Linked DNA regions of Homo sapiens. The protein of the gene in region 1 purifies or fractionates together with the protein of each later gene. This does not show direct contact. Each region holds a gene or a part of one and is shown in the gene's direction. Other genes may lie near its edges. The genes, in order: KCNK16, RMDN3, DNAJC16, LSR, EMC8, GRAMD1A and NPLOC4.

Region 1 (4,284 bases):
ACTCACTGGGGTGCACTTCACCTGCCAGAGCTCCCAGGAACCAGGCTGAGGCTGGGACTGTGGTGCCTTGTTTGGCTTTCTCCTCAGCCTGGCCCTCTTGCCCACTGTCTTATGGGTCTTCAGTGACTTCACTGCTCTCAGGGGCTGAGACAGAGGGGAGCAAGATTAGCACTATGACTTAGACCAATTATGCTCAATTACCTGGGGTTAACACTTACAAAGCCGGGGTTCTGCTAGCTGGGGAGGAGGGAAAGGATACTCAGCAGGCAACTCACAGTGTCTGCAGCCACAGCTCATTAAAGGAAACAGCAGAAAACACAGCAGAGATATTGGAATCCTCGCCCTGGGCTAGTGAGAATATAAAATGGTTCAGCCACTTTGGAAAATAGCCTGGCAGTTCCTCAAAAAGTTCAATACAGAGTGGCCAGATAGTCCAGAAATTCTACTCCTAGGTATGTACCTGTGAGTAATGCAAACACATGTCCACAAAAAAAACTCATACACAGAGGTTCATAGCTGCTTTGTTCTTAATAGAAGGAAACAGGGACAACCCAAATGTCCATCAACTAGAAATCAAATGGATAAACAAATGTGTTATAGCCACACAATGAAATATTACTCAGCCAGAAAGAAGGAAGAAGTACTGTTACATGTTGCAACAGGGCTGGATCTTGAAGACCCTGTGAATATACTAAAACCCACTGAATTGCACACTTTAAATGTGTGGACGATACAGCATGTGAATTATATCTGTATAAAGCTGTTATACATGTACATAAACAAGCATGTGTACACACACACACACAGGCAAAGAGAAAGGAAAGCACTCTCAATTCCATCCACTCAGAGACAGCCCCTCTTACCATCCCAGGATCAGGATATACTTATAGTTTCTTTTTAATTCACACATATATTTCACCGACATATCCTCTGAAGGTAACCCACTAGAGGGCTTCATGCAAGACAAATTAGCAAGAGTTATAAAACCAATGAATCCAACTTATCAGCAGAATCAACCCTGATACTCTTACCATCAGGCTGAGTGAGACAATCACCTGTCTATTTACTTTGCCCTGATTTGTCACGCAGTTTACTCATCCTGAGGTTCCCCCAATAGGCAGTTCAATTATCCTGCCCCATTTTGTAGCCAAGGCAACTGAGTAGAAGGTTTATTCATACCCATTCTGACCTCTTCCCAGCTCCTAAGCTGGGGTCTTACAGCCTTCAAGGGTGAAGACGCTGGGGGCGGCCGAGAGAGCCCACTGGGGCCTGGACAGAGTGAGCACACCTATCCGATTTAGCCCAGAAACATCTATCCAACTTGGAGACAGAGAGAGAGACATGAAGCACTCAGGAGAACCTGGTAGGTCTCTTTGAAGGGTCCCTGACACTGACTTGCTGCTGTCCATGGAAACAAAGGCCGGGTGGGGGTGGCCGGCCTGTTTGCACTCACAGCATAGCACTTAGTGCAGCCAAGCTGAGCCGCACTGTTCAAACAGTCTCCCCAGCCTCCAGACACCTGTGCCGAGGAGGAGGGCAGGGCAGGCGGCAGCCTGGGCACAGGCCCCTAGGTGCTTACTCCTCACCTGTTTCCCACCTCTCCCCCATAGCCAGCCCCACGGCCCTGGCAGGGTCCTGGCCACAGCATGCCCAGTGCTGGGCTCTGCAGCTGCTGGGGTGGCCGGGTGCTGCCCCTGCTGCTGGCCTATGTCTGCTACCTGCTGCTCGGTGCCACTATCTTCCAGCTGCTAGAGAGGCAGGCGGAGGCTCAGTCCAGGGACCAGTTTCAGTTGGAGAAGCTGCGCTTCCTGGAGAACTACACCTGCCTGGACCAGTGGGCCATGGAGCAGTTTGTGCAGGTGAAGGGGAGCGATGTGGGATTGGGATGGAGAGGCTTGGGAAGGTTGGTGGAATGGGGTTCCTGTGGCAGATCCACAGTCCTCACCCAGGAGCTGATGCCCCATTTGGAAGAAGAGTGTGGTGGGAACAGAGAGCCTGGTGAGATCTAATCCTGGATTCTGGCCCCAGGTCTACAACTGGATTGATGTGTGACCTTGAACAGGTCACTTAACCTCTCTGGACCCAAACAGCCTCATCTATAAGGCAACAAGAATAACCATATCGGTACTGCAGACATTTGACAGCAGATTAAAAGCACTCTCTAAGCTGTCACTTGCTGGATGAATGGGAACTATATGTCAGCGTTATCAACGCTATCCAAATTTCCTCCTCCCACACTTTCATACTTCCCCTTCCCCAACTCCAGGGCTGCAGCTCCTTCTGCCCTCTCCCAGCTCATATCCCTGGGCAGACGGCTGCGGGTGGGAGACACAGATAAATGCCAGGAGCAGCCACCACCAAGCTGTCCTTTCCTGGCCTGTTTGCACCTGGAGTTGGGTTTGGTGGGCAATGGCCAAGGTGACTGAGCTTGCCAGCACTGCACCCAAATGGGGCTCTCTCTTGGTAACAGAGTGGGTCACCCCCTGCCTGGGTCCTTTCTGGTTTCCTCTTTCCCAGAAACAAGACAAAACCAGGTGTTGTGGAGGGAGGTGAATGCATCTGAAATAGGCACTGGAGCGAGTGACAACATCCCCTGCAAAGGAACAGACCAAGTGCCAAATCACCTTGATAACTGGCATTTACTGAGCATTCACAATGTGCCTAAAACAGTGGGAAGCAGGGTGGTCATGACCAGCTTAATCCAATCATGATCCACTCATCACCTGACACTGAGCGTGTTACAGGTGTTTTCTCATAATTACCTATTACAATCCCTATCTCCACTTTGTAGATGGGAACTGAGGTAGAATATGTTGACCAAGGCTGCACAGCTACTGGTAGAGACAGCATTCACTCCCAGGCCTCTGGCTCTGGAGCCCCGGGTCTTCACCACACAAATTAGCATAAGTGCTGGGGGCAGGATGCAACCTGAAGCAGCAGTTCTCAAAGTGTAGTCCCGGGACCAGAATCAGCATCACCTGGGAGCCTGTTAGAACTGGAGATGTCAAGCCCCACTCCGCACCTGCCGACTCAGGAACTCTAGGGATGGGTCCTGCAGGCTGTGTGTCAACAGGCTCTCCAGGTGATGTTGAGGACCCTGAAGACTGAGAACAGCTGGCCTAGAAGATGATGCGTGGGCTGGGTGGTCACAGACAACATTCTGTAGCTGTGAGAGACCAGGAAGTGAGGCCTCCAGCTTCAGGTTTTACTCTCTTCTCCCTGATGGATAAGGTTAGTCAAAGTTGGGGGACCATAGTACCACATCAGGGTTGAGAACAGTTCAGGGGCCTCCCAAAACCCTGGGAGTAAGGCAGAGGCCCTGGAGAAGCTGAAATCTCCTCCCTCAGCTCTGCATTGGAGGTGAGAGCCAAGCTGGAGGGCGTGGGAAGGGTTGGTAGCTGCAACCTAACTCGCTCTGCTAACCAAGACGAAAGGAGGCCATCCGCTTGATTGCAGCCCCGAAGGGATTGCCACTGATTAGCCCCTGGGGCCTCCCCAGGGAAGACAGGACATCCCTTTCCCTGAGAGTCCTCAGCCTCAGGAGAGACCCTTCCTTGCCAGGGGCAGTTGAGCTGGGTGGCAGAAGAACACTGGGGTGAGATTCTGGAAGAAGACACATTCCTGTTGAACTCTCAGACGCACAGGGCGAGTTGAGTAACTAGTATTAAAAGCAGTATTAAACATTGCCTCTGTGACGAAACACTGCTTGCCCAGGTTCACAAAACTGGGAAGTCAGAACCCATGGCCACCTGCATCCGCCCACCGGCACTCAGCACCCTCAGCAGGATGAGGGCTGCAGGCTGGCAGTGGGGGATGGCCCAGGACTAGAGTACTGCCCCCAGAAGTGAGGGTCTCCAGAGAACGAGCATGTTCGGGAATGTTGGGCCCTGGCCACTTTGTGGATGTGGGAAAGAAAGGGAGGCCAAAGTCCACATCTTAAGAGGCCAGTTCCCGTCAAAGTGAGGAGAAGCAGACAGCCTGTGACCGCAGATGCCCTGACTGGCTTGGCCCACCAGGGCCACCCCAGCCCTGATCTAAGCACACCCACCCAGCCAGCGGGAACTGGTTCCCATAGGAATTGGAAGCCAGAACTGTTGTGTCCCTGGCTTCCTCCTGCCTTTGGGGCTCTTCGGTGGCAAGGCTGTGCTGCTGCTCTGAGACAGTCCACAATTAAAGAGGAGAGGGTTGGGGCAGGGGAGGAGAGAGCCCTGCCTATTCTCCAAGGCGGCTGGGCCCAGGGACTGGAGGTTGTCAGCAGTGGGGCAGCGAAGGGAGGTGTTGTAG
Region 2 (3,500 bases), on another chromosome or scaffold:
CAACAGCCAATGCGGAGTCTGACAATGAGCGGGACTCTGACAAAGAAAGTGAGGACGGGGAAGATGAAGTGAGCTGTGAGACTGTGAAGATGGGGAGAAAGGATTCTCTTGACTTGGAGGAAGAGGCAGCTTCAGGTGCCTCCAGTGCCCTGGAGGCTGGAGGTTCCTCAGGCTTGGAGGATGTGCTGCCCCTCCTGCAGCAGGCCGACGAGCTGCACAGGGGTGATGAGCAAGGCAAGCGGGAGGGCTTCCAGCTGCTGCTCAACAACAAGCTGGTGGTGAGGCTCCAGCTGCCTGTCTCCTTCTCCTTCCCTCCCTCCCTCCATCTCTCTGTTCCTGACCCCTGGGGAATGAAGGCCCGTGTGGTTACTGCCCCTACAAGGTGACATGGGACGAGAAATGGTGAGACAGCTGGTTTTGCATCTGTCCCCCAGGTCACATATCCTCTTCCAAGGAGGCCCAGCGTGGATCCTAGGGCCAGTGTACTGCTTGCCCCAGAGCTGCCTCCCCTCTTGGGAGGGGGAGTGTAGTTCTCTGCTTTCTGTAGAGCTACTGCAGAAAGAGCTCTACCTCTCACCTCTAGGGGGAAATGTGGAAAGAACTGTATTTTTTTTTTCTCCTCATTTCCCTTGAGGCAGAGTCCAAGCTGCCAGCCCCATTACAAGCGACAACTGTGTAGGTCACTCAACCATAATTCTCTTGTCAGGTTCACTGACAGAATATATGCCCACCCAGGTATAAATGCCCCCCCCCCAGAAGTTAGAAGTTTCCCTTTTCCTTTCACACTTTCTTCATGTGTCAGCAAAAGACCTCTCGTGCCTTATGACATCTTGGAGTTGACCTTTCCTCCCAGCAGTTCTAGGAGGTCAGAATGCCCTCACCCCGTAATTGTGCAAGCTACTGGCTAGACAGAGAATGTGTCATACATTAACTGCACGTGGGAAGGGATGACTGGGGGGAAGGCTGCGTGTAGGAGCTGGCCTGATATTGATGACTGTAACATACTAGCTTGGAAATTCAAACCTAGGGTGTGGGGGAAGGCCAAGGCCCCCATTCTCCACAGTTGAGGAAAAAGGGGCCTCACCCGTTTCTGTCTGGTCTGCAGTATGGAAGCCGGCAGGACTTTCTCTGGCGCCTGGCCCGAGCCTACAGTGACATGTGTGAGCTCACTGAGGAGGTGAGCGAGAAGAAGTCATATGCCCTAGATGGTAAGTGCTGACAGCTTCCTGTGGGAAGGTGACTGACTGATTCAGGGGTGGGGCTGGCCCATCTGCCTGGGGACCCGGGGAACCACCAAGATGCTGTCAGCAGTTGTGGCTCAGTTACCCACTAGGGACAAACTCTGGCTCCCAAAGACCCTTGCTTTCTCCTCTGGAAGAAGAGAGCAGTCTTTGCTTATCTGTATATCATGCTGATTAGTAACACACGTGCATGTGTTTCTAGGAGTAGTTGTATCCTATCAATGTTATTCGTTTTTCTCACTCTAGCCACAGAGGGCAAAACCTTTTTTCTTAACCTGAGGTTTTTTGCTGCTGCTTAGAAATCTGGTTTCAGTTTTCTGAGCTGGTGGGGCAGGTGTTCTAAGAATATAGCTAGCTTAGAAGACTCTGGAATCCACTTGGCAAGTCTGTTGGCAAAGGCTCCACCCTGGAGGATAGGGTGCATCTGACCTGTGCCAGGCTCAGGGCTTGGCCTTATCTGTCATGAGGTCAGAGAATGCTTGGACTTTAGAGACTGATGTGTCCTGCTGAACTCCACACACTGAGTCAGGTACCATCAATGGGTAATGGGTTTCTAGGTCTGTGGTTCAGTTAATATCTATTTTTTTTTTTTTTTTAAACAGTCTTTCTCTGTTGCCCAGGCTGGAGTTCAGTGGCCTGATCTCGGCTGACTGCAACCTCCACCTCCTGGGCTCAAGCAATTCTCCTGCCTCAGCCTCCCCAGTAGCTGGGATTACAAGCACATGCCATCATACCCGACTAAGTCTTGTATTTTTAGCAGAGATGGGGTTTCGCCATGTTGGCTAGGCTGGTCTTGAACTCCTGGCCTCAACTGATTCACCCACCTAGGCCTCCCAAAGTGCTGGGATAACAGGCATAAACCACTGTGCCTGGCCAGTTAACTGTCTAAAATGGATTTGTCTACCTTTCTATTGTAAGTACAGCCTTACAAATATTATTGAATCCTTGATAATGTATACTCAAACAGTACCTCAAAGTTAACATTCTAAACATTTGTAGAATTCTGTCAATGGAGAAAGAACAGACCAATTGAGTAGGATGTCTCTGTAGACCCTCAGAAAAATTCCTGGAAGTTTTAACAAAAGATGCTTATTTATGATTACTTTTTCTCTCCAAAAGTTTGTTTTCCCTCCTAAATTTCAGATGAGGATTCTCAGCTTTTGGGCTGATTTTTGGACTCTTCATGTCAACAACCTTTCCTTTCCCTCTTGATCATTGGTCATCTCTTATTAGTGCTAGTAGCCAGCATGAACCCCAAAGACAGAAGTGGAGGCAGTGGTTAGCAGGGCAGCACTTGGTTGGTCTGGCCTCCTGAGCTTAGCACCCATGGACAAAGCTTTACCTGCTGGAGGTCAGATGACTATGGAATGTCTTTGAAGGTTCTGCTCTGAGATCACAGCCTTTAAGAATTATCCTTACTGGGTATAAAGTTTATTTCATTGTATCTCTAGGAGCTGGACCACCAGGAGGCAGTCATTCTGTGGGGTCTCAGGCAATGTCTTGTCTACAACACTGTCTGTCTAGCTTGGCAGGAACTAGTTGTCTCATTCTTTGCTATTATTTTCCTAGTGAGACAGTACTTTGAAGAGGGCAGAGAGAAATCCCCAAAGAGGCAGCGTCCCTCATTGGTGGGGCCATGTGGTCCCTCTCTTTGGGAAGAGAGGTAGAGTCTTTCACAGCATCAGTTGTCTTAAGAATGCATTTGTGGCCAGGTGTGGTGGCTCATGCCTATAATCCTAGCACTTTGGGAGGCCAAGGCAGGAGGATTGCTTGAGCCCAGGAGTTAGAGACTAGCCTGGGCAATATAGTGAGACCTTGTCTCTACAAAAAAAAAAAAAAAAACTTAAAAAATTAGCCAGGCATGGTGGTGGAACATGCCAGCAGGAGGATTGTTTCAGCCCAGGAGGCAGAGGTTGTAGTGAACTGAGATTGCACCACTGCACTCCAGCCTGGGCAACAGAGAGAGACCCTGTCTCAAATAAAAAAAGGAAAACATTTCAGATTAGCCAGTTTACCACCTCAATGCATTACATTTGTTCCATTTTCTCCATGTTCCCTTCCAAACTTGTTTTCTTCAAAGAATTCTTGGCTGGGCACGGTGGTTCGCACCTGTAATCACAGCACTTTGGGAGGCTGAGGTGGGCGCATCACCTGAGGTCAGGAGTTTGAGACCAGCCTGGCCAACAAGGCAAAACTGTCTCTACTAAAAATACAAAAATTAGCCAGGTGTGGTGGCACACACCTGTAATCCCAGCTACT
Region 3 (3,500 bases), on another chromosome or scaffold:
ATGTTGGCCAGGCTGCTCTCGAACTCCTGACCTTGTGACCCACCTGCCTCAGCCTCCCAAATTGCTGGGATTACAGGCATGAGCCACTGTGATGGGCTTTTTTTTTTTTTTCGGAGACCAAGTCTCACTCTGTTGCCCATGCTGGAGTGCAGTGGTGTGATCTAGACTCACTGCAACCTCCGCCTACCGGGTTCAAGCAATTCTTTCACCTCTGCCTCCAGAGTAGCTGGGACTGCAGGCACACACCACCACGCTCGGCTAATTTTTGTGTTTTAGTGGAGATGGGGTTTCACCATGTTGGCCAGGCTGGTCTTGCACTCCTGACCTCAAGTGATCCGCCCACCTCGGCCTCCCAAAGTGCTGGGATTAAAGGCATGAGCCACCACGCCTGGCCACTATCCCTGTTTGCATAGAGCAAGATACTGAGGCTTAGAGCAGTCATATAACCCACCCAAGTTCTCACTACAGCATGGTGAGCGCGATTCCCACTGACTTCAGACCTGCCCTGTGAATGATTCCCCCACTACACTCCCAGCCTACCTACACTCCCCACTACCTCTCATGTCACTGTGACATGAGACGGAGAGGAAGGTGTTATCAGTGGCATGGTCACTGCCATCTTACCTAATTACGGTACAGGTAATCCCCAAACTCATGCCTCCTGACCAGTACAGATTTCAAGAAGATCGTTATTTTGCTTTAGCTATGAAAAAGAAGAGAGTTGTTTGTATTTACTTTGTTGGTACAGTTTTTGCACATGGAACACCATAGAATGGAAGTATACAAGGATACGGAAGACCTAGTGGAGCTGTGTAAGCTGGCATGTACCTCTCTGCTCAGTGATGTGAAAAAGCCCTACTTGATTTGTCATTTACATCTTTGCTGTAGTTTTATTTTCTTCCTCTCTATTATGCCCTAACAGTTGACTGCCTTTGCATACAAAGATTATTTATCATTTGGATATGTATATGTGGGTTTGAGAGGGACGGAAGAGATGACAAGGCGGTACAACATCAATATCTACGCCCCTACCCTCTTGGTCTTTAAAGAACATATAAACAGGCCTGCCGATGTTATCCAGGTACGTGAGGGTCACCTTGGTTAAGATTTTCTTCACATTTTATCCCAAGATTTTATGTAAATAAACAGCAAAATTGAACAAAGTGGCTGAAGGAAAGGATCTTCCTTCAGATGCACAAAATTTTTTAATGAATTTTTTTATCTAACTTGGTACCGTTTGCTTTAAAATTTTTAATTTAAAACGTTTAAAAATTTTAGCACCTTTAAAGGGCTCCTGTTGGAAAACCAACAATCTTTTTCCAAAATGAATTTAAAAGTTAAATGTAAAACAGTAATAAAAAGGAATAAGAAGAAGCCACAAACTAACTGAGAGAATGTACAGATGAATATTTATCTGATCTTAAGGTAGGAAAGGGTTAAAAAGCATTGGGGAAAAATCTTGGAAAATCTTGATAACTTGACTCTAAATTTTATGTTTTTATGTAAATACTTTAAAATGTAAAGTTAAAAAACTGGGGGAATATTTATAACAAATATTAAAATGTTGATATTTTTAATTTCTAAAGAGCTTTTAATCAAGAAAATCATAAAATTCTGAGAAGACTAATAACCATTTTTAAAAATTAAATCTCACAAGTAATCAGAGAACATTAACCTTTTTTCACCCATCCAACTGTCAAAGATTTTCTAAGTTAAAATAGTACTGTTGAGGGTATAGAGAAACAAGTACTATCTTGCTAGAGGCAGTCCACTCTAATGGCAGCTCAGGTGTCCTGTGAACACAGAAGGGTACCTGAAACCATGGAAACCAGATGGGAAAGTGGACCGTAAAGAAAGAAGAGCAGGTTTAGAAAGATAAGAACTTTGGCTGTGGACATACTGAATTAGAGCTGCCTGTAGGAAATAGAAGGGGAGAAGTCCTTTCTACAGTTGGGTATAGGAATCGAGATCTTAAGAAAAGCATACAGGCTGGGGATAGAAACTGGTGTATCATCAGTAAATGGTTAGTGGTTGAAGTCCTGAGTAGGGTAAGATCTTCCCGGCATAATACCGTAGTCTCCCCTGATCCACCCCACTTACCCCTTTTTCAGTTTCTGAGGTTTCAGTTACCCACAGTCAACCAGGTCCAAAACATAGGTGACTACAGTGCAAGAAGATATTTTGAAGCCGGGCGTGGTGGCTCACGCCTGTAATCCCAGCACTTTGGGAGGCCGAGGCGGGCAGATCACGAGGTCAGGAGATTGAGACCATCCTGGCCAACGTGGTGAAACCCCGTCTCTACTAAAAATACAAAAAATTAGCCGGGCGTGGTGGTGGGCCCCTGTAGTCCCAGCTACTCGGGAGGCTGGGGCAGGAGAATGGCGTGAACCCAGGAGGCGGAGCTTGCAGTGAGCTGAGATCACGCCGCCCACTGCACTCCAGCCTGGGCGACAGAGCAAGACTCCGTCTCAAAAAAAAAAAAAAAAAAAAAGATGTTTTGAGCGAGGGGGACCATGTTCACATCACTTTATTACAGTATATTGTTAGAATTGTTCTATTTAAATATTGTTGTTGTTAATCTCTTGCTGTGCCTAATTGATAAACTTTATCATAGGTATGTGTATAGGAAAAAAACATAGTTTGTATAGAGTTCAGTACTATGTGGTTTCAGGCACCTACTGGGGGTCTTGGAACGTATCCTCTGCAGTTAGGGGATGACTGCTGTATGTAAAGTAAGGCCAAGGAGGCCAAGGACAAAACTCAGAACAGCCACCGGCACACAAGACAAGGGGGTGCCTGATGGAGACGAGAAGGTGCTGCAAGTCAGGAAGAAAACAAATACCAGTGTCCGAATAGAAAAGAGAAGATAATCTCAATCCAGGGTAAATGGATGAGGATTTCCTAAATTGGTCTTTCGGAACAGTTTATAGTTCTGAGAATTATATTTATTTATCCCACTGGGGAAAATTGTAAATCAAATACATTTACAAAATTATTGGTAGAATGGCTGCTTTACCAGCTTGCTCTTTGTGGATATCAAGTGTATGCTTAACAAACTCAGTTTTCACAACAGCAGGTGGCTTAATGATCACTAGTAGCACCAGTGGTTTCCTGTTGCTCTAGGTAATTTGTTGTCATTGCTATATGGTATTTATGGCCATTATAATTTATTGAATCATTCTTCCGTTGGTGGACATTGGGGGCTTTGAGGAATAGTGTTGCAATGAATATCATAACCTAAGTACAGAGTTCTCTAGGACAGCAGTTTTCAGAATGTGGTTGATAGACTCCTGGGGATTCTCAAAGATCCTTCAAGAGAAAGTCTGTGAGATCATATCAAGACACGATTTGCCTTTTTCACTGTGTTGACATTTACACTGATAGTACCAAAGCAGTAGTGGGTGAAGCTGCCAGTGCCAGTGCATGAATCCAGGCAGGGCACCAGGCCACCTACCATCATTGTGTGCTTCACCCCCAATCACTCGCAGCAAAAACAAACC
Region 4 (3,500 bases), on another chromosome or scaffold:
TTTTTTGTATTTTTAGTAGAGACGGGGTTTCACCGTTTTAGCCGGGATGGTCTCGATCTCCTGACCTCGTGATCCGCCCGCCTCGGCCTCCCAAAGTGCTGGGATTACAGGCGTGAGCCACCGCGCCCGGCCCCTTGTTCTTAACTGTAATGCTGCCTCCTGATAGGATGTGCCTGTTGGGACTAAGTAAGGGGCAGTCATTCATTCATTCATTTGGTATTTATCAAGCATCGACTATGTGTCGTTGGTGCTGGGGATAGAGGTGATTGGGATGGCTGAAGTTTCTGTCGTCAAGGAGATGACATTCTGGTGGAGTGAGACTGGCAGTAAATAAGCAGATAAAGAAAGAGTATGAGAATTTCAAAGTCTGGGCACGGTGGCTCACGTCTGTAATCTCAGCACTTTGGGAGGCCAAGGTGGGTGGATCACCTGAGGTCAGGAGTTCCAGACCAGCCTGGCCAACATGGTGAAACCCCGTCTCTACTAAAAATACAAAGATTAGCCAGGCATGGTGGCACATGCCTGTAATCCCAGCTACTCAGGAGGCTGAGGCATGAGAATCGCTTGAACCCAGGAGGCAGAGGTTGCAGTGAGCTGAGATCGCACCACTGTACTGCAGTCTGGGCGACAGAGTGAGACTCTGTCTCAAAAAAAAAAAAAAAAAAAAAGACTCCGTCAAGGTATAAGAATGTCAGAGAGTACTAAGTGTTGCAAAGAAAATAACACCAGGCTGGGTGCATTGGCTCATGCCTGTAAATTTCAGCACTTTGGGAGGCCAAGGCAGGAGGATCACTTGAGCCTAGGAGTTTGAGACCAGCCTGGACAACAAAATGAGACCCCATGTCTACAAAAATTTTAAAAATTTAAAAATTAGCTGGGCATGGTGGCATGTGCCTGTGGTCCCGGCTGCTCAGGAGGCTGAGGTGGGAGGATTGCTTGGGCTTGAGAGGTCAAGGCTTCAGTGAGTCATGATCGTGCCACTGCATTCCAGCCTGGGTGACAGAGTGAGACCCTGTCTTGAAATGAAAAGAAAATAGGCTGGGCGCAGTGGCTCACACCTGTAATCCCAGCACTTTGGGAGGCCGAGGTGGGTGGATCACCTGAGGTCAGGAGATCGAGACCAGCCTGGCCAACATGGTGAAATCCCATCTCTACTAAAAATACAAAATTTAGCCGGGCGTGGTGGTGGGCGCCTGTAATCCCAGCTACTCGGGAGGCTGAGGCAGGAGAATCGCTTGAACCTGGGAGGCGAAGGTTGCGGTGCGCCAAGATTGCGCCACTGCACTCTAGCCTGGGAAACAGTGAGACTCCGTCTTAAAAAAAAAAGAAAAAAGAAAATAGCACTGGGTGATGTGCTACATGGAATGACTTGGGCTGTGAATATGATTTGAGGAGGGCCTGGGCCTGGGCCTTACAGAACCTAGAAGGCAGAGAGGAAGGGGAGGGGCAGGGTGCCAGGGATGAAGGCTCACGTACCTCATGTCTTAGTGTGTGTTCACTGTCTTAAACAAGAATTTAAAGTTGGGCATGGGGCAGAGCGGGGAAGGGAGCATCCCTTTGCAGACCCCAAGAAGCCAGGAACTGGAGCACATTCTGCTAGAGGATCGATGGGAAGCAGGGTTCCAGGGGCTGAGCCTATGTCAGTCCTGTTTCAGAGGAGGCACCAGGCTTGCTTGCCCTGAATTTCTGTGGGCAGCTCAGCCATGAGCATCCTACTGTTATTGAGGTCACAGGGCTGCTTAGGCCCCCTCCTCTCTAACCCAGGGATTGTGCCTGCCTGGACCAGGCGTGACTGCTAAGCTTCTGCCAGGACAAGCCAAATACTGAGGGTGCTTCCTCTGCTGGACGCAAAAGTCCAGGATGACCCCCCAGGCTCTGTCTCGGGGAAGGGGCCCTGCATGCTCCAGGGGCCTCACAGGCCTGGGTCTTTCAAACCACCCCCACCTGGGCCTGTGTTTGATCAAGGCCCTGAGTGTAAACATCCATTGTGTGTGTCCTTTCAGGAAATCCCATAGCCATAGGAGCTTCCTCTGTTTCAGCTTTGAGGATGGGGAAAAGTGGACTCCCCGTGGTGTTCCTAGGGTCACCCACTGTGCTGGGGTTTTTCTGTTGTTGTTGTTTTTTTTCTGTTGCCCAGGCTGGAGTGCAGTGGTGCAATCTCAGCTCACTGCAACCTCTGCCTCGCAAGTTCAAGTGATTCTCCCGCCTCAGCCTCCTGAGTAGCTGGGATTACAGGTGCACACCACCACACCTGGCTAATTTTTGTATCTTTTTGGTAGAGATGGGATTTCGCCATGTTGGCCAGGCTGGTCTCAAACTCCTGACCTCAGGTGATCTGCCTGCCTTGGCCTCCCAAAGTTCTGGGATTACAGATGTGAGCCACCATGCCCGGCCTATCCTGGTTTCAAAAGTGAAAATAGTCCTGGATAAGGTAGAAGGCTGTCCACTCCAGGCATCCCTCCGGTCCGGTGGCTCATTCCCTGCTTTGTCCTTCCATGCTTTGGGTGATGGACCAGCACCTGGACAGGAGGCCCTGTTCCACCTCCTCGGGCTCCTTGGGGTCCAAGTGCCCCCACCTCCAGCTGCACTGCAGCAGAGAGCCCATGGGACCTCTGAAATCATGAAGGTCACCTTTGCGGTGTATAAAGAAGGAACCAGAGGTTGGAGATGTGGAGGAGGCCTGGCTGCTGTTCCCACTGGAGACCTGGCATCTTCTCCCCGACCTAAAACAATGAAAGCAGTGCTCAGCCCGGATGAGATCACGGCCAGCCCAAGACCAGGAACAGGGTACGCCCTGCAGGAAGAAGGTGTGCCCAGACCTTAGGATGGATCAAAAGAAGCCGGAAAACTATATTTTTTGTGAGTTTTGAAAATGTCAGACAGGTCAAACAAAACACAGTGAGGTCCAGCCTCGGCCTACAAGATGCCAGATTTCAACCCCTGGCCTATATGATCTGTTTGCCATGGCAGGCGGTTCCTGTCCACCTCTTTTGTTTATAGCAGGGACCAGCTCTTGAGCTCCAGTGTTGAAGAGGCACGGTCAGGGTCTGATCTGAAGACACTGGTGGCTCATGCCTGTAATCCCAGCACTTCAGGAGGCCGAGGCAGGAGGATTGCTTGAGGACAGGAGCTGGGAGACCAGCCTGGGCAACACAGTGAGACCCAGAGACTACAAAAAAATAAATTTAGCGGGGCATGATGGCACACCCTGCTACTCTGGAGATGGGAAGATTGCTTGAGCCTAGGAGTTCGAAGCTGCAGTGACCCATGATCGCACCACTGCACTCCAGCCTGGGCGACCAAGCTAGGCCCTCTCAAAAAAGATACAGGTGGAAAAATGATGGACGAAGAGGGCATTGTGGCAAACCTGGGGATTTAGGAGAACCTAGTTTGGAATTCTATGAGGATTCAATGAAAGAATGTGTGTAGAGGGGCCCAGCACATAGTAAGAGCTCAATAAACGGTGGGGGCTAGGGGCGGTGGCTCATGCCTGTAATCCC
Region 5 (3,500 bases), on another chromosome or scaffold:
CTGTTCTAACGTAGTGTTTATAACTTTTATGAATTTCCTAAACTTTAGGTCATTCCATCAAGTTTTATTATATGATTCATTGTTGGCCAGTGTTTTGCTTCATAGTTAGCATTTGATATGAGTAGGTTTCGGTGCCCGGCAGAGAGCCCTGGCCTGAGGCAGACACTCAGGAGGAAGCTTTTAGATACACATTGTAAGATGGCACCTACACGCTGGCCCGACATGGTGCTGTTGAGGGTGAGCAGAGTGGTCTGCCTTCAGGGTGCCTGCAGTTTCAGTTGGCAGCTGGCTCTTCCTAGGAACAAGGAGTTCCTGACTAGCAGGAACCACAGCGTGGCAGTCTTCATTCAGGATCAAGTGGATCAGTATTGGAGATTCAGTGCCTAAGACAGAGAAATGCAAAGTTGGCAGCTGTTTCAAATACTTTGACAGTTCATTAACTACACATTTTTTTTTTGGCGGGGCGGTGGCAGAGCAGACAGAGTCTCACTCTGTCACCCAGGCTGGAGTGCAGTGGCACGATCTCGCCTCAATGCAACCTCCACCTCCTGGGTTCAAAGTATTCTGCTGTCTCAGGCTCCTGAGTAGCTGGAATTACAGGCACCTGCCACCACACCTGGCTAATTTTTGTATTTTTAGTAGAGACGGGGTTTCACCGTGTTGGCCAGGCTGGTCTCGAACTGCTGACCTCAAGTGATCCACCCACCTTAACCTCCCAAAGTGCTGGGATTACAGGCATGAGCCACCACACCCGGCCAACTACAAATTTTTAGACTTCTTTTAAAATAATAAATTTTAGGCCAGCCATGTTGGATCACACCTGTAATCCCAGCACTTTCAGAGGCCAAGGCAGGAGGATTTCTTGAGCCAGGTGTTCAAGACCAGTCTGGGCAACATAGCAAGACCTCATCTCTACAAAAAAATACAAAAATTAGCTGGACATGGTGGCCTACGCCTGTGGTCCCAGCTACAAGGGAGGCTGGGGTGGGAGATCACTTGAGCCTGGGCAGTTGGGGCTGCAGTGAGCCATGATCTCGCCACTGTACTCCAGCCTGGGCAACAGAGCAAGACCCCATCTCAAAAATCAGTGAATAGAAAGACAGATGTTAAGAGTTCTTGAGCATCTGCAATGGTAGTTTTTCTTTTTAATGAGTGTTTCCTTACCCTCTCCCCAATAAAAATCAACAACCAGCATGATCAGTGTTAAGTAGGAGGGTAAGGGCTTTGCAAGCTCTTCATGGCAAGCGGCCCTGCCTTTTGCTTTCCAAGTTCCTCAGCAAATGCAGGAGCAGGCAGAGGTGGGTACATGGGCAGGCCTCCTGAGGGCTCTGTACCCACTCTTCACCACTTGCCGTTAGTGCTGTGGGGACCTGGCGCCCACCGAGTCCTGGTCAGTGCAGTGAAGCACTGCCTTCCCTCTGCGCTAGGAGCCACCATCGCACTGCTTTCTTCAGTACGATTGGCTTCTACCTGAAAACCTCCCCTTCCCTCTTAAGTCATATTTTTCTTAACACAGTCACATTTTTAAGTCATATTTTTCTTAATACTGCAGATTTATAATCAGTACATCACTTTGTCAATTTTGAAAACGAAAATACAATAATCATATAAAATAATTTGTTTTTTAAAAACATTATTAATTTTTTTTAGCCTAATCACAAGGGAAGGATTGTAATTGTATATAGTGTGCTTTGTTAAATAACTCACAATAATGCATGTATTTTTATGGCTGTTAAAAGAAAGATGGGGCCAGGCGCGGTGGCTCACGCCTATATTCCCAGCACTTTGGGAGGCCATCGCGGGCAGATCACGAGGTCAGGAGATCGAGACCATCCTGGCTAACACGGTGAAACCCCATCTCTACTAAAAATACAAAAAATTAGCTGGGCGTGGTGGCGGGCGCCTGTAGTCCCAGCTACTTGGGAGGCTGAGGCAGGAGAATGGCGTGAACCCGGGAGGCAGAGCTTGCAGTGAGCCGAGATCGCGCCACTGCACTCCAGCCTAGGCGACAGAGTGAGACTCCATCTCAAAAAAAGAAAAAAAAAGAAAGATGGATGGCTTGGTCCCTGCCACAAAAAGCTGAAAGCCTTGATTGTGCAGGGCAGACAGGATGCACAGAAGGAAAGCAGCACGTGCCATGGACTCTGTGTTAGAGCCTCTTAGAAATAAATCCTCAGAACTCCAGCAGGGCAGGGGGTCTCATCCAGGGTTTAGCAGGGCTTTGTGGTGAGGGTGGCATGTCTTCTGGGCACTGAAAGAGGGGAAGCAATTCAGTAAGGAGGCCTTGGTGTGGAGGGCCAGACGGGACAGTGTGAGTGAAACAAGACGGGCATGTGAGGCAGATGACATGTAGGCAGATTTCCTGACATTGAAGACACAGCATTGCCCCTGTGGCTGCACACGGTAGCTCAGTTCACCGTAACGAAGGCCTGCCTCTGCCAGCCTGAGAATAGCAGCCTTCATCTTGCAGGCAGTGGTGAGCAGTAGTCTGTGGGGCTGTGAGCACCAGGGGACGTGATGGAAGTTCTGTTTTAGGAAAATTTAGTTCAGGAGAATTTTCAGGTTACATCGGATAAGAAGAGCCTAAGCTGAGCTTCGTAGCACGTGCCTGTGGTCCCAGCTGCTTGTGAGGCTGAGCAGGAAGGATTGATTGAGACCCGGAGTTTGTGGCCATGATCACACCTGTGAATAGCCACCATGCTCCAGCCTGGGCAACGAAGCGAGACTCTGTCTCTTTTTTTTTTGACGTGGAGTCTCACTGTTGCCCAGGCTGGAGTACAGTGGCATGATCTCAGCTCACTGCCACCCCCGCCTCCCGGGTTCAAGCGATTCTCCTGCCTCAGCCTCCGGAGTAGCTGGGTCTACAGATGTGCATCACCACACCCAGCTAGTTTTTATATTTTTAGTAGAGACAGGGTTTCACCATGTTGGCCAGGCTGGTCTCGAACTCCTGACCTCATCAGGTGATCCACCTGCCTCGGCCTCCGAAAGTGCAGGGATTACAGGCGTGAGCCACTGCACCCAGCCGACCCTGTCTCTTTAAAAAAGAGAGCGAGCGAGTGACCGTAGAAATTATGAGACCGGTTAGGAAGCAGTTTTAGAAGCCCCTGCCTAAGGTGAGAGACTGAAGGAAATAAATGACAGGGAGAATGCAGGAAAGGAGGGCAGAGAAAGGACCTGTGGCCTGCAGGGTGGGGAAGAGCAGAGGGAAAGGTGGCCTCAGGTCGGAGAGGCTGGAAATGGACTGGCCTGCCTGAGAGTGGTGGGTTCCCGCTGGGAGGCTTTTGAGGGGGTAGCAGTCTTGGGGCCATCAGGCAGTGGTCAGGAGACTTCCGGAGTGCTGCTCTGCAAGGGAATGGGTTAGATGGCAGATTGCACAGAGCTGTGGTGAGGACATGGAGCAAGACTAGCGGCTTGTTAAAGAAGTTGAAGAAACAGTCATGGAAGGGAGGAGGGAAGCTGGACAGCAGCTAGAGGGAACCGGTTCAATGCTTTTGTTT
Region 6 (2,647 bases), on another chromosome or scaffold:
CTAGTGCCAGGGACAAAGCAGATGCCCAATAAATGTGATGTCATCACACGACAATTCCCTCAGGCCCCAGTAGACTCAGGCCAGCAGTTGCGGTGGGTCAGAGCAAGTGTCAGGCCAGCAGTTGCGGTGGGTCAGAGCAAGTGTCAGGCCAGCAGTTGTGGTGGGTCAGAGCAAGTGTTAGGCACTCGGGGAAGGTGTCGAGGGGGAAAGCGGATGGGAAACAGAGTCTGGCATTGCCTGCATTTCCAAGGCCATCAGAGCTGAAGTTGTGGGTGACGGTGAAAATCTTGTCTCATTGGACCCTTCCATATCAGAAGGCTCATCTTTAGGGGTCTCATTGCCCCCCGAAATCAAGCTTGGGAGAGGCTCACACTGGAAAGGGCGGGGCAGGATGGGGTGGGGAGGAGATGAAGGCTGAGGCCCCATCACTCATAGAGAGGGTAGGCAGGGCCCCCCATCCTGCGTTATTTTATTTTATTCTTTTGAGACAGGATCTCATTCTGTTGCCCAGGCTGGAGTGCAGTGGCACGATCATGGCTCATCGCTGCCTCGAACTCCTGACTCAAGTGATCCTCCTGCCTCAGCATCCTGAGTAGCTGGGACTATAGGCAGGCACCACCACACCTGGCCAATTTTAAAATTTTTTGTAGAGACCAGAGTCTCACCATGTTGCCCAGGCTGGTCTCAAACTCCTGGCCTCAGGCAATCCTCCCGCCTCGGCCTCCCAAAGTCCTGGGATTGCAGGTGTGATCCACCACGCCTGGCCCTGAGTTAAATTTTTATCATTTTCCTCTCTGTCAAACTGCTAAGGGTGCAGAGTTGACGTCACAGATTGGTGCTCACAGTAGATGTAGACTGAGCACTTACCTGCAGCTGGGCTGTTCTAGGTTTTAAGCATGACTGCTTTATCCCCACAGCCAGCCTTTGAGAAGATGCTCTTGTTATCCCAGTTTTTTTGAGACAGTCTCGATCTGTCACCCAGGCTGGCGTGCAGTGGTGCGACCTCTGCCTTCCAGGTTAAAGCGATTCTCGTGCCTCAGCTTCCCAGGTAGCTGGGATTACAGGCACCCGCCACCACGCCTGGCTAATTTTTGTATTTTTAGTAGAGACGGGCTTTCACCATGTTGGCCAGGCTGGTCTTGAACTCCTGACCTTAAGTGATCCACCGGTCTCAGCCTCCCAAAGTGCTGAGATTACACGCATGAGGCACTGTGCCCGGCCGTTATCCCGGTTTTATACATAGGTAGGCGATATGAGGCATCCAGAGGTTCGAGGAGCTCAGGAGCTTGCCCGAGGTCACAGAGTGGGTAATGGTGACAGCTAACATGTGCTGAGCACTTAGTGTACACCAGGTTCTCAGTGCTCTTCAGAACCCTGAAATAATCCTGTGGAGCAGATGTGTTATAGACCCGTATTTCAAATGAGGGGATTTTGGCTCAGGGTGGTTACGGGACTTGCCTGAGGTTAACTGAGGTAACAAGCAGCAGAGCCAGGATTTGAACCTAGGCCATCGGGGTCACAGGCACACACTAAGCCCCTTCCTCTGCTGCCTCTGAGAAGTTAAACTGGGTGCAGCATGGCTGTGCTCTTTTCACCAAGGGACCCTGGGGTGGGGCAGTATGGCCTCTAGACCGTCCTCAGTTTCTCAATGGCAAGGTGGGGGTGGGCGACATCACCCCCCAGCCTCCAGCGTTCACCCCCGACCCTGCTCACCTCCTCCCCGCAGATGAAGTTCTCGCTGGAGAAGCTGCACCAAGGCATCACAGTCTCAGACCCTCCCTTTGACACCCAGCCCCGGCCCGATGACAGCTTTTCCTGAGGACCCCGGCCACGCAGCTGTTCCCCCACATGGACAGATGGACACACAGAGCCTCGGCGGCCACTGCTGGCACGGTGTGAGCGCCAGGCATCTCCCACCCGCCCCTCCCGACGGCCCAACCAGGGGCTGTGCAGACGTGGGGACCACGGAACCGAGATGCACTTTAGACCAGGGAGCTGGCCCGGCCTCTGGCAGGCCCCCCACTAACTTATTTTGCCCGGCTGAGGTTGTGGGGGGCGCCTCCTGGGGTGCACGATTCCCTCAGCTCTGGGTTTAATGTATTATATTTATTTGGGGCCGACAGTGCCCCAATAAAGGGTCAGAAGTGGCTGTGGCTGTGCCTGTGGGGCCCTGGGAGTGGGTGGGAGCCTCCTGTTGCACTCAGATCCTGCCATGGTGGGGAGGGGACCTCTGTCTGTGTTCTGGGGCCATAGTCACTGAAACGATCTGGAATTCCCGCAGCATCTTACACAAGCTTTACATCATCTGAGGTCAACGCAGGAACTCCGGGGACAGACCGTGGTAGCTGGAGTTCAAATCCTGCTTCCTAGCAGTGGTGTAAATGCAGCAGGTCAGCCCCCTGGAGCTCCAGTGAGCTTTCCTGTGCAATGGGTAGAATGGCAGTAGCTGTCTCTCAGGGTTGTTAGAAGGCAGTGGTTCTCAAACTTGAGCTGCATTCGAATCTCCTGGAGAGCTTGATGAAAAACAGACTGTGGGCCCCTCCCTCCAAATTTCTGGTTCAGTAGGTCTGGGGCAGGGCTGGGATTCTGCCTTTATAACGAGTTCCCAGGAGTTGCTCATGGTGCCATCCCAGACGACACTTTGGTT
Region 7 (3,500 bases), on another chromosome or scaffold:
TCCACCTCAAAATATGTTCCCATAAAAAATTTTGAAGCATTTGGGTACAAAGAGACTGGAAAGGTATTGGGGGAGTTGGGGGCCTCACACCAAGTCTTTACTGTGATGTCCCCTGGAGATGCTGATTCCCGTGCAGAGTGGGGTGTTAATCAGCAGCTGCAGGGGAGGGAGGAGGGAAGGGGCAGGTGGTTGTGTGTGCGCATCCATGTGAGGTGAGTGCTGTGTCTCTCATTTCATAGCGGTTGGATGATTTTGACCTGCCACACTAGTGTGCGCTCTCCATCCCTGCAGCAAGCATTTCACTTGCAGAAGATGCTGTGCCTTGGAATATTCCCTCCTCACCTGGGGCTATATGAAGTGCTTATGCATATGTACATTGTTTATTTTAGATTTTTTGCAATTCCTTTTAAATAAACCAGTGAGAAGGATCTGAGTTTATACTTGGCCATGTGAAATTGTCTGAGCGAAGGTTGTCTCTGCAGTGGGGTCTTTTTTAAAATGCATCACTCTGTAGATGTGACGGGGTGCTGACTTTGCGGTATTGGGATTCCAAATGCTGCATTAGCAACTTTTATGTCTTAGATCAGAGAGCCATAAATGGTGCTCTCCTGCCATTGGCATGGAGCCACTTTGTAGCCATAGCCATTAGCCGGCATGCCTCTTCCATTTGTGTCTCCTCCCAGGGGCCTGGCACTGGCTTGCTTGCATGATCTGTGTCTTCATGGCTTCATTAGCAGCTTTTGAGAGCGTGTGTGTGTGAGAGAATTCTGAGCCATCATCACTTAGATCCTGCCTATTAGGAAGCACAGAGGCCACCTCTGTTCCGCAGCACAGGGCTCATACGCATGTAAGAATTCTGACCCCACTTAGAAAGGGGTCTGACTGAGCCCCGGAGGGACGGCCGCCGGCGCCCTCGTAAACCAGCATACCTCTCCTTCAGATTGTGCGTGTTGTGCTCCCAAGGCTTCTGTGACTGAAAATGTTAGAAAGCCGTGGGACAAGGTTTTTTCATTGTTGTTATTTCCCAAAATGCATATGAAGTAGGTATTTTCCAAACTTGGATTATTTATGCACCGCTCTCAGGCCCTTTGCCATGTTCACGTACCAGCTTTGTTATTATTTATTTAACACTTTTCTTTTTTTTTTTTTTTTTGAGATGGACTCTCGCTCTGTCACCCAGGCTGGAGTGCAGTGGCGCGACGTCCGCTCACTGCCAGCTGCGTCCCCCCGGTTCACGCCATTCTCCTGCCTCAGCCTCCCAAGTAGCTGGGACTACAGGCGCCCGCCACCACGCCTGGCTAATTTTTTTGTATTTTTAGTAAAGACGGGGTTTCACCGTGTTTGCCAGGATGGTCTCTATCTCCTGACTTGTGATCCACCCGCCTCGGCCTCCCAAAGTGCTGGGATTACAGGGCGCAAGCCACCACACCTGGCCTATTTAACACTTTTCTTTAAATGGACTTGGCCAGGCGCAGTTGCTCACACCTGTAATCCCAGCACTTTGGGAGGCTGAGGCAGGTGGATCACCTGAGGTCAGGAGTTTGAGACCAGCCTGACCAATATGGTGAAATCCCGTCTCTACTAAAAATACAAAAATTAGCCAGGCATGGTGGTGTGCACCTGTAGTCCCAGCTACTTGGGAGGCTGAGACAGGAGAATCGCTTGAAACGAGGAGGCGGAGGTTGCATGGAGCCGAGATCATACCTCTGCACTCCAGCCTGGGTGACAGAGTGAAACTCCGTCTCAGAAAAAAAGAAAACAAAAAAAAAACTATTTTATTTATTTATTTATTTGAGTGGAATTTCACTCTCGTCTCCCAGGCTGGAGTGCAGTGGCACAATCTCAGCTCATCGCAACCTTTGCCTCCCAGGTTCAAGCAATTCTCCTGCCTCAGCCTCCCTGGTTCCTGGCATTACAGGTGCTTGCCACCACGTCCGGCTAATTTTTGTATTTTTAGTAGAGATGGGGTTTCACCATGTTGGCCAGGCTTGTCTTTAACTCCTGACCTCAGGTGATCCACCCATCTCAGCCTCCCAAAGTGTTGGGATTAGAGGTGTGAGCCACTGCCTTTGGCCAATAAACTACTTACATTGACTTTGAGTTCATTCACTTTTATCTTTGGTTTGTGTCATTTTTTTTTTTTTTTTTTTTTTTGAGACGGAGTCTCGCTCTGTCGCCCAGGCCGGACTGCGGACTGCAGTGGCGCAATCTCGGCTCACTGCAAGCTCCGCTTCCCGGGTTCACGCCATTCTCCTGCCTCAGCCTCCCGAGTAGCTGGGACTACAGGCGCCCGCCACCGCGCCCGGCTAATTTTTTGTATTTTTAGTAGAGACGGGGTTTCACCTTGTTAGCCAGGATGGTCTCGATCTCCTGACCTCATGATCCACCCGCCTCGGCCTCCCAAAGTGCTGGGATTACAGGCGTGAGCCACCGCGCCCGGCCTGGTTTGTGTCATTTTAAGCAGTGGATACCCATGAAGTCACAGGTTTGATGTGCGGGTCAGTTTTTTCTAATTCATATCAACATAAGTAGTAAACTTCTGGGTGTGGTGGTGTACACCTGGAGTCCCAGATACTCGGGGAGGCTGAGGTGGGAGTGCTTGAGCCCAGGAGGTGAAGGCTGCAGGGAGCCACGATCACCACTGCACTCCAGCCTGGGCGATAGAGTGAGAGCCTGTCTTTAAACAAAACAAAACAACAATTAAAATATAAATGTTTATCCATGTGCCATCTGGAATATAACTCCACGTGGGCAGGGAAACACTCTGTTAAAGTAGGACGTGCATGTGAGACAGCAGCAGCGGAACACAGACATCCTCACTGCTCTGCCTTTTTCTGCCTTGTACTCTCCTCAGATGCCGCCACGGCCCTTTGGGGAAATGCGTGCACTGCGTCCCTCTAGAGGTGAGAGTCTCTGCGGAGTAAGTTCTGGGCCAGTGTGGGGGGCTGCGGGTAGACAGCTGTCTTAAGTGCTTGCCCTGAGTCCACGCACTTGGCTGTAGTGAGTGGTTCAAAGAACTTACCTATTTATTGCCCTGGGCCTCATATTCCCCTAGTGCAAGCTGCACACAGGACGAGCCTTTATTTATGGGAGTGACCTTCTCGCTGGATTATGAATGGCTGAAGCATTTGTGTGGCTGTGATAAAGGGGCAGCATTTACAGCGGGCTCCCTGGACAATCCTTTTCCGATCTGACACAAAGCTGAGCCTGTCGGCCTCCGTGCTTATCATTGTTGATTTACTTTGCCTTGAATCTCACATCTCTTCTACTGGTTTGTCCTGGTGAGACTGAGAGTTACCGTAATAATGCCGACTGGAACTGTTAATGCTGGGTTTACAGCAGGAAGGCCAGCCCGATTTTCTTCATGAGGCATCTCTTGCCTCATCTTGTGGCATTTCTTTTTGCACAATTTTCCTGAAACTCATTTGACTTAGAGCGTTTTGTGTTTAATAGAGATTCATTTTAATCTTGAAAAGATAACTGGCACACAAAGAAAAACT

The links.
Region 2: the proteins of KCNK16 (region 1) and RMDN3 purify together in Homo sapiens (co-immunoprecipitation; 2 studies listed by BioGRID and IntAct, with this or other methods). This does not show direct contact.
Region 3: the proteins of KCNK16 (region 1) and DNAJC16 purify together in Homo sapiens (co-immunoprecipitation; 2 studies listed by BioGRID and IntAct, with this or other methods). This does not show direct contact.
Region 4: the proteins of KCNK16 (region 1) and LSR purify together in Homo sapiens (affinity purification with mass spectrometry; 2 studies listed by BioGRID and IntAct, with this or other methods). This does not show direct contact.
Region 5: the proteins of KCNK16 (region 1) and EMC8 purify together in Homo sapiens (affinity purification with mass spectrometry; 2 studies listed by BioGRID and IntAct, with this or other methods). This does not show direct contact.
Region 6: the proteins of KCNK16 (region 1) and GRAMD1A purify together in Homo sapiens (affinity purification with mass spectrometry; 3 studies listed by BioGRID and IntAct, with this or other methods). This does not show direct contact.
Region 7: the proteins of KCNK16 (region 1) and NPLOC4 purify together in Homo sapiens (affinity purification with mass spectrometry; 3 studies listed by BioGRID and IntAct, with this or other methods). This does not show direct contact.

The regions. Positions count from the first base shown.
Region 1 is NC_000006.12:39,319,903-39,324,186, reverse strand, and holds the start of KCNK16 (potassium channel subfamily K member 16), read left to right. Parts: upstream 1-1,484; 5' UTR 1,485-1,646; coding exon 1,647-1,859; intron 1,860-4,284. UniProt on the Homo sapiens protein: K(+) channel that conducts voltage-dependent outward rectifying currents upon membrane depolarization. Voltage sensing is coupled to K(+) electrochemical gradient in an 'ion flux gating' mode where outward but not inward ion flow opens the gate.
Region 2 is NC_000015.10:40,741,755-40,745,254, reverse strand, and holds part of RMDN3 (regulator of microtubule dynamics protein 3), read left to right. Parts: coding exon 1-278; intron 279-1,027; coding exon of another isoform or gene 1,028-1,105; coding exon 1,106-1,208; intron 1,209-3,500.
Region 3 is NC_000001.11:15,547,348-15,550,847, forward strand, and holds part of DNAJC16 (dnaJ homolog subfamily C member 16 isoform 1 precursor), read left to right. Parts: intron 1-922; coding exon 923-1,081; intron 1,082-3,500. UniProt on the Homo sapiens protein: Plays an important role in regulating the size of autophagosomes during the formation process.
Region 4 is NC_000019.10:35,252,002-35,255,501, forward strand, and holds part of LSR (lipolysis-stimulated lipoprotein receptor isoform 2 precursor), read left to right. Parts: intron 1-3,500. UniProt on the Homo sapiens protein: Probable role in the clearance of triglyceride-rich lipoprotein from blood. Binds chylomicrons, LDL and VLDL in presence of free fatty acids and allows their subsequent uptake in the cells.
Region 5 is NC_000016.10:85,782,545-85,786,044, reverse strand, and holds part of EMC8 (ER membrane protein complex subunit 8), read left to right. Parts: intron 1-3,500. UniProt on the Homo sapiens protein: Part of the endoplasmic reticulum membrane protein complex (EMC) that enables the energy-independent insertion into endoplasmic reticulum membranes of newly synthesized membrane proteins.
Region 6 is NC_000019.10:35,024,323-35,026,969, forward strand, and holds the end of GRAMD1A (protein Aster-A), read left to right. Parts: intron 1-1,726; coding exon 1,727-1,819; 3' UTR 1,820-2,147; downstream 2,148-2,647. UniProt on the Homo sapiens protein: Cholesterol transporter that mediates non-vesicular transport of cholesterol from the plasma membrane (PM) to the endoplasmic reticulum (ER).
Region 7 is NC_000017.11:81,609,613-81,613,112, reverse strand, and holds part of NPLOC4 (nuclear protein localization protein 4 homolog), read left to right. Parts: intron 1-2,854; coding exon 2,855-2,903; intron 2,904-3,500. UniProt on the Homo sapiens protein: The ternary complex containing UFD1, VCP and NPLOC4 binds ubiquitinated proteins and is necessary for the export of misfolded proteins from the ER to the cytoplasm, where they are degraded by the proteasome.